Homo sapiens: one gene and its partner. The main gene of each other region encodes a partner of the protein of the gene in region 2 in a complex. Each region holds a gene or a part of one and is shown on either strand. Other genes may lie near its edges. A codon is read from its position in the direction of its gene.

Region 1 (3,742 bases), on a different chromosome or scaffold from region 2:
TCCTGGCCTAAGAAAGATGGCTCCACCCCAGAAGGCTGGAAAACCCCATGTCCAGTGCTTGCGGCCTCGTCTGGAGTGGCTGTCAAGTGACCCAGAACTGCATAGCCCCTGCTGTGTACCAGGCTGTGTGGTCTCCCGTGAAGGTCAAGACTGAGCCCAGTCACACAGTCCTCAGGACTGTCAGGTGGATGCTGGCAGGGCCATGTCTCTTCCAGCCTTAAAGCGGCCTGGTCAGTCTCCTGGCTGCACGTAGGGTCTTGGTAGCCGCATCTCATCCCAGAGACCCGTGAGACCATCTTGGGGACCCCACAGCCTGTGTGTCCAAGCACTCTTCTCACCTCTATCCCGCACCCAACTCTCCTTCTGCTCCTCCAGAGAAGCAGATTTGTTCAGGAGTGACGGACAGGCTGGGCCTGTGGGCCAATTTTGGGCTGACCCCAGAACCCCTCACCCTGCCCCCAGGGTCCAGTCCTGCCCCTCAGCCCCTGGCCCTAGCTGTGGGCTGTGCTGCTTCCTGAGTCCCCACCGGGCAGCTCCTCCTCCATCCCCCTGCCGACCCTAGGGGAGGGCCTCCTGCAGCAGCCCCTCCTCTCCCCTGTGAGCAACAGCGGGCACAGGACACCCTTCCACCCTCTCCTGTCTCCTTCTCACGATGTCAACCCTGCCTCAGCCCCTGCAGGGTCTAGGAAACACCCCACCTCCCAGTACCGACAGCAAGCCTCTCCCGCCCACTGGGACCCCCGCCTTCACCTCCTTGCTGCCTCCCCACCCACGGCCTCGCGTGTGCTCGACAGTGCTCACTCAGCCAGGGACTCTCTCCTGGAAAACCTCTTCCCCACCATCCCCCACCCGCGGCCTCGGGGTCCCACCCGTTAGGGGCCCGATTCCGCGAAGCCCCTCTCCACAGCACGTACCGCAGGACACCCCCAGTCGGGCTGACTCTTTCCAGCTCAGGCCCCCACAGCCCCTCCCAGCCTCCATTTCTTGCTCCTTCCCCACCTCTCCCGCACAGGGTTCTGGTCAGGGTACGGTCCAGTCTCCCATTATTCGTCCACTCCGCAGCATGTGACCCAGCCCATCCCCGCTCCTTCTTCCTCGACCCGGGACCCTCCAGCTTGGCCCTCCCCACTTCCTGGGCCGGCCGGCCCTCACCCTCGGCAAGGATCCCGGGGCTCCTCTCCTCGACGCCCGACCTCTCCAAGGGCCTACAGTGGATAAGGTCCCCGCGTCCAGAAGCGCCCGTTCATCAGGGAGACGGACATTTGCCACCTGCAAACCATGACGTTCCACGAGTGGGTCCACGCGTCTCCCCTGCCCATCTCCTGCTCTGCACCAGCGAGAACCCCCTCGGCCTACACGGAAGCCCCTCACCAGGCAAGCCGGGAGCCCCAGACCCCGTGGCCCGGAGTGGGTCGCTCTGTGACACCCTGGACAGGTCACTCAACCACTTGGCGCCTCCTCGGCCACTCAGAAAACACCTGCCCTCCCGGAGACCCCGGTGAAAGCCGAGCACTCCTGCACCCTCCTTCCGAGCCCACGCACACCAGGACACCTTCAGCCGCGTCTCCTGGTGCGCCTGCGCGGGGGCCCTGGAGGAGGAGAAGTAGGCGGGGCCGGCGGCCGCTGGTGACTACAAGCCCCGGCGTGCACCGCGCTAGGCTGGCCGTGGCGCGCCCGGAAGGTGTCGCGGCCCTGGGCCCCGCCCCGGAAGATAAGGCCGCTCGCTGACGCCGTGTTTCCTCTTTCGGCCGCGCTGGTGAACAGGTAGGTCATCCTTGCGGCCTTGCGGCATGGGCAGTATCCGCCGCCATCCTCTTCCGTGAGGCGCGCTGAGACCCGGACCGGCCCTCCTGAGAGGATGCCGGTGCGGGCGCCCGCGGAGAGGGTAGGGAGTGGTGGGCGCGGCGGCCTCGGGGGCGGGGTCCCGGAAAGCCGGGCTGGCGGGGGTACCCGGGCCGCCCGGCCGCGCTAATCGTGAGTCGCCCCCAGGACCCGTCGCCATGGGCCGTGTGATCCGTGGACAGAGGAAGGGCGCCGGGTCTGTGTTCCGCGCGCACGTGAAGCACCGTAAAGGCGCTGCGCGCCTGCGCGCCGTGGATTTCGCTGAGCGGCACGGCTACATCAAGGGCATCGTCAAGGTGCGGAACGCTGGCCGGGGCGGGAGGGGAAGGGACGCCCGGCCGGAACGCCGCACTCACGCCGCCTCTGCCCACAGGACATCATCCACGACCCGGGCCGCGGCGCGCCCCTCGCCAAGGTGGTCTTCCGGGATCCGTATCGGTTTAAGAAGCGGACGGAGCTGTTCATTGCCGCCGAGGGCATTCACACGGGCCAGTTTGTGTATTGCGGCAAGAAGGGTTAGCATCGCGGCGGGGAAGGAAGGTCGGGGTGGGGAGGGGTCTGGGTGTTGCCTGAGGAGTTAACGTCCTAAGCCGATATGGGAACCTCGCAGGCAGAAGCTTCAGGTGGGGACATCCGCGTGGCCAGACCAGTGGCCACCGGTGGGTGCCGAGAGAGTTGTACCGGGAGGCTGGATGTTGAATGCTGTGCTCGCAACTTCGCGGGTTGCCTAGAGCGAGGGGGTTCGCATTGTTTCTTACTGTGCTGACGGCCTGATGCTGCTTCCCCTTGCAGCCCAGCTCAACATTGGCAATGTGCTCCCTGTGGGCACCATGCCTGAGGGTACAATCGTGTGCTGCCTGGAGGAGAAGCCTGGAGACCGTGGCAAGCTGGCCCGGGCATCAGGGAACTATGCCACCGTTATCTCCCACAACCCTGAGACCAAGAAGACCCGTGTGAAGCTGCCCTCCGGCTCCAAGAAGGTTATCTCCTCAGCCAACAGAGCTGTGGTTGGTGAGTATCAGGCAGCAGTTGAATGCTGAGGGCTGTGGGTGAACATGCTGTGAGTGCCGGTGGACAGCCAGTGGCTAGACTTGGTCCCTGGAATTCGATTACCTGTTGTTCTAAAACTTGGGTTCTGTAAGTTTGAGCTCATCCTGTAGTCTCAGTTGTCATCACTGTACAACAGGCACAACAGTACCTGCTTTACTGCTGTTGAGGCGTTAAATGAGATTGGGACGAAGTCACCAGGGTCTTGGATTCTACCGTGGGCTTCCTGATTGCTGCACTTGCATGCAGTTGGTTAACAGCCTTTTTAGAGAAGGCAGGGAGAGATTGTGGCTTTCTCAAAGACGCCTACTGAGTGAGTGAAAAAGGATTTGAGTCTAGGTTAACTCACTGTGCTGTTTGGGAACATCTTGGAATCCTTGTGATGAACTCAGCCTCGCACAGGGGAGGCTCTGAGGTTGTGTTCCTGGAATAAGTAAAGCTGAGATGGGGCAGGCTGAATCAAGTGTCTTACGTCAGGTTGAGTGGCCGGCCTGACGTCTCACACATGGTGAGGGGGGTGCTTCCCTGCGCTTGGAGCTCAGCCAGCATTCTAGGTGATGGAGGTGAGGGCCTTGGCTTGCCTGCCCATTGTGGATTGAAGAAACTGGATGTCAGCTCACAGGGTGCAAGGGGCTCCCTAGGGTGGAGGCGAGTGGGCTTTTTGCTGGGTAGTTGGATGCAGTATTGGGAAGGTGCATGACAGGAGATTGAGGGGAGGTGGGGGTGCTCTGACCGACTGGGGGTTCCCTGAGGTATCTGATCCCCTACAGGTGTGGTGGCTGGAGGTGGCCGAATTGACAAACCCATCTTGAAGGCTGGCCGGGCGTACCACAAATATAAGGCAAAGAGGAAC
Region 2 (3,742 bases):
GGCTGAGGCAGGAGAATCGCTTGAACCTGGGAGGTGGAGGTTGCAGTGAGCCAAGATTGGGCCATTGCAACACAGAGGTTGGGGTAACACAGCAAGACCCTGTCTCAAAAAAATAAAATAAAAATAAAAAATAAAGGTAAAGAGACTAGTTGGGAGGCTATTTGTAATAAACCAGGATTTGTCTGCCTCAACACTACACTACTGACATTTTGCATCAGACAATTATTTGTTGTGGGAGGGTTGTCCTTAGTATTGTAGAATGTTTAGTAGTGTCTCTAGTGTCTGTTTACTAGATGTTAGACAACCCCTAGCCCCCTATATGACATTGCCAAATGTCCCTATGGAGACAATATCACCCCCAGTTGATAACTGTGTGTGTAACAGACCATGTGAGAAATAAAAAAGGGTGGATGTTAGACATGGGTAAGGACAAAATCTAAAAGCCTTGGCAAGTGTTTGGATAGGCTTGCAACTGAGAAAGAGGGAGTGTTGAAAGCTCAAACAGAGAAAGGTCCTAGAGGCCATGTACTGTAGTCTAATATGCTTATCATTGCTTGAAACATTGTAAACCCTCTTGGAAGGCAGTTTGGTAAAACCTATTAATAATCACAAAAAGTATCTTACTTTTTGACCCAGCACTTTTATTTCTGGGAGTTTATCTTAAATGATTCAAATGAAGACAAGGAATCTTTATGTACAAAGCAATTAGTTGCATGACAGACAGTGACCACGTTCTCAAAAATTACACCCGCATGCCACCACATTGCCTGTTAAATTAGAAGCCGATTTAAGATCCTGAGTTTAAGAGCCAAAGAAGTTGTAGCTAAAGAAACAAAATCCCAGAGGGGCAGGAAGGGCAGATATCAAGAATGCAAGTAGAGAAATTCTTAACTTATTTTTCAGAGAGAGGACAATGAATTTGAGAATTTGTATTGGAGAAAAGAGGGAGAGAAGTTAGGTGGAGGAACTCCTAGATAAGGCTTCAATCAGTGAATTCATCTGCAGAGCAGAAGTTTCTGCGGAACTCAAACTGCCTGGGGGCATTCCTTGAAAAGAAGAATTCTGCACTTTTTGGTGGGAACCTGCCGGTGGAACATCCTGTTTAGAAATGAGGACATCCAAGGAACACTGCAATGTGCAGAGACTAGAAGGAAAAAACAGTCAAGTAGCCATTTCTCCTGGGGAGTCTCTAGTAACTTGATTTTGTGCTTCTTCTTGTTTTTTGAGACAAGAGTCTCACTCTGTCGCCCAGGCTGGAGTGCAATGGTACGATCTCGGCTCACTGCAACCTCCACCTCCCGAGTTCAAGCAATTCTCCTGTCTCAGCCTCCCGAGTAGCTGGGACTACAGGTGCAAGTCACCACACCTGGCTAATTTTTGTAATTTTTAAATTATTATTTATTTTTATTTTTTTGAGGCGGAGTCTCGCTCTGTCGCCCAGGCTGGAGTGCAGTGGCGCCATCTCGGCTCACTGCAAGCTCTGCCTCCCGGGTTCACGCCATCCTCCTGCCTCAGCCTCCCGAGTAGCCGGGACTACAGGCGCCCAGCACCACGTCCGGCTAGTTTTTTGTATTTTTCTTTTTTAGTAGAGACGGGGTTTCACCGTGTTAGCCAGGATGGTCTCGATCTCCTGACCTCGTGATCCGCCCGCCTCGGCCTCCCAAAGTGCTGGGATTACAGGCGGAGCCACCGCGCCCGGCCAATTTTTGTAGTTTTAGTACAGACGGGGTTTCACCATACTGGTCAGGCTGGTCTCGAACTCCTGACCTCAGGTGATCCACACACCTCGGCCTCCGAAAGTGCTAGGATTACAGTCGTGAACCACCGCGCTTGGCCGCAACTTGATTTTTAAATTGCTCTCTGAGTGTAGATTCCTTGTTTGTTTGGCAAGGGTTCTTGCCGCTGCCGCTACAGCTTGAAGCCAAACATTTAATGAAAGAGAGCGGGAGGGGCCGAATAGAAGAATGATGGGCGTGGCCAACCCCGAGGTGGCTGGAGGCCGCGCCCCCTTCCCAGAGTGCACCGCAGCCGCTGCATTCAGGAACCGCTTTAGCTTCGCCCCCGGCCGGCCGGGCGGGGAAGACTGGTGTGGTCTGGCCATGGATGGGCTCCAGGCCAGTGCAGGGCCGTTGAGGCGCGGGCGGCCGAAGCGCCGGCGCAAGCCCCAGCCACACAGCGGGTCGGTCCTGGCCCTGCCCTTGAGGTCCAGGAAGATACGAAAGCAGCTGCGAAGTGTTGTATCCCGCATGGCAGCGCTGAGGACGCAGACGCTGCCTAGCGAGAACTCGGAGGAATCGAGGGTGGAGTCGACGGCCGACGACCTGGGGGACGCGCTACCCGGTGGGGCGGCGGTGGCGGCCGTCCCGGACGCAGCCCGGCGAGAGCCATACGGCCACCTGGGGCCCGCAGAGCTGCTGGAGGCCTCGCCCGCCGCGCGCTCCCTGCAGACCCCGTCGGCGCGCCTGGTGCCCGCTTCCGCGCCGCCCGCGCGCCTGGTGGAGGTGCCCGCCGCGCCGGTCCGGGTGGTGGAGACCTCGGCCCTGCTGTGCACCGCGCAACACTTAGCGGCCGTCCAGTCGTCCGGGGCCCCTGCGACGGCGTCGGGGCCGCAGGTGGATAACACGGGTGGGGAGCCGGCCTGGGACTCCCCGCTGCGGCGCGTCTTGGCCGAGCTGAACCGCATCCCCAGCAGCCGGCGGCGAGCGGCCCGCCTCTTTGAGTGGCTCATCGCGCCCATGCCGCCAGATCACTTTTACCGGCGCCTATGGGAGCGCGAGGCGGTGCTGGTGCGGCGGCAGGACCACACCTACTACCAGGGACTTTTCTCTACCGCTGACCTGGATTCGATGCTGCGCAACGAGGAGGTGCAGTTCGGCCAGCATTTGGACGCCGCTCGCTACATCAACGGACGACGCGAGACCCTGAACCCACCCGGCCGCGCGCTGCCCGCCGCCGCGTGGTCCCTGTACCAGGCCGGCTGCTCCCTGCGTCTCCTCTGTCCGCAGGCTTTCTCTACTACTGTGTGGCAGTTTTTGGCTGTGCTTCAAGAGCAGTTTGGAAGCATGGCAGGCTCCAACGTTTACCTCACGCCCCCTAACTCGCAGGGCTTTGCCCCCCACTACGACGACATCGAGGCCTTCGTGCTGCAGCTGGAAGGTAGGAAACTCTGGCGTGTATACCGACCCCGAGTCCCAACCGAGGAACTGGCTCTGACATCCAGCCCCAACTTCAGTCAGGACGACCTCGGTGAGCCGGTGCTGCAGACCGTGCTGGAACCTGGAGATTTGCTGTATTTTCCTCGGGGCTTCATTCACCAAGCTGAATGCCAGGATGGAGTCCACTCTCTGCACCTCACCTTGTCCACGTACCAGCGCAATACCTGGGGTGACTTCTTAGAGGCCATACTGCCTCTGGCAGTGCAGGCTGCAATGGAAGAAAATGTGGAGTTTCGGAGGGGTCTGCCCCGAGACTTCATGGATTACATGGGGGCCCAGCATTCAGATTCTAAGGATCCGCGAAGAACCGCTTTCATGGAGAAGGTGCGGGTCTTGGTTGCCCGCCTGGGACACTTTGCTCCTGTTGATGCTGTGGCCGACCAGCGAGCCAAAGACTTCATTCACGATTCTCTGCCCCCTGTTTTGACTGATAGGGAGAGGGCACTAAGTGTTTACGGGCTTCCAATTCGCTGGGAGGCTGGAGAACCTGTAAACGTGGGGGCCCAGTTGACAACAGAAACAGAAGT

What was found.
Region 1: the proteins of RIOX1 (region 2) and RPL8 are in contact, whole or in part, in a crystal structure (PDB 4CCN), measured with the Homo sapiens proteins. Residues at the interface, in NP_078920.2 of Homo sapiens: Gly259 (codon at 2,874), Gln260 (codon at 2,877), Arg272 (codon at 2,913), Thr274 (codon at 2,919), Arg297 (codon at 2,988), Met322 (codon at 3,063), Ala323 (codon at 3,066), Gly324 (codon at 3,069), Ser325 (codon at 3,072), Asn326 (codon at 3,075), Tyr328 (codon at 3,081), Phe337 (codon at 3,108), His340 (codon at 3,117), Asp342 (codon at 3,123), Ile344 (codon at 3,129), Ser374 (codon at 3,219), Asn376 (codon at 3,225), Thr419 (codon at 3,354), Ser421 (codon at 3,360), Thr422 (codon at 3,363), Gln424 (codon at 3,369), Tyr577; in NP_000964.1 of Homo sapiens: Gly213, Gly214, Asn215, His216, Gln217, His218, Ile219, Lys221, Pro222.

Annotation. Positions count from the first base shown.
Region 1 is NC_000008.11:144,790,388-144,794,129, reverse strand, and holds the start of RPL8 (large ribosomal subunit protein uL2), read left to right. Parts: upstream 1-1,739; 5' UTR 1,740-2,000; coding exon 2,001-2,138; exon of another isoform or gene 2,139-2,199; intron 2,200-2,215; coding exon 2,216-2,357; intron 2,358-2,634; coding exon 2,635-2,853; intron 2,854-3,659; coding exon 3,660-3,742. UniProt on the Homo sapiens protein: Component of the large ribosomal subunit. The ribosome is a large ribonucleoprotein complex responsible for the synthesis of proteins in the cell.
Region 2 is NC_000014.9:73,488,919-73,492,660, forward strand, and holds the start of RIOX1 (ribosomal oxygenase 1), read left to right. Parts: upstream 1-2,014; 5' UTR 2,015-2,099; coding exon 2,100-3,742. UniProt on the Homo sapiens protein: Oxygenase that can act as both a histone lysine demethylase and a ribosomal histidine hydroxylase. Specifically demethylates 'Lys-4' (H3K4me) and 'Lys-36' (H3K36me) of histone H3, thereby playing a central role in histone code.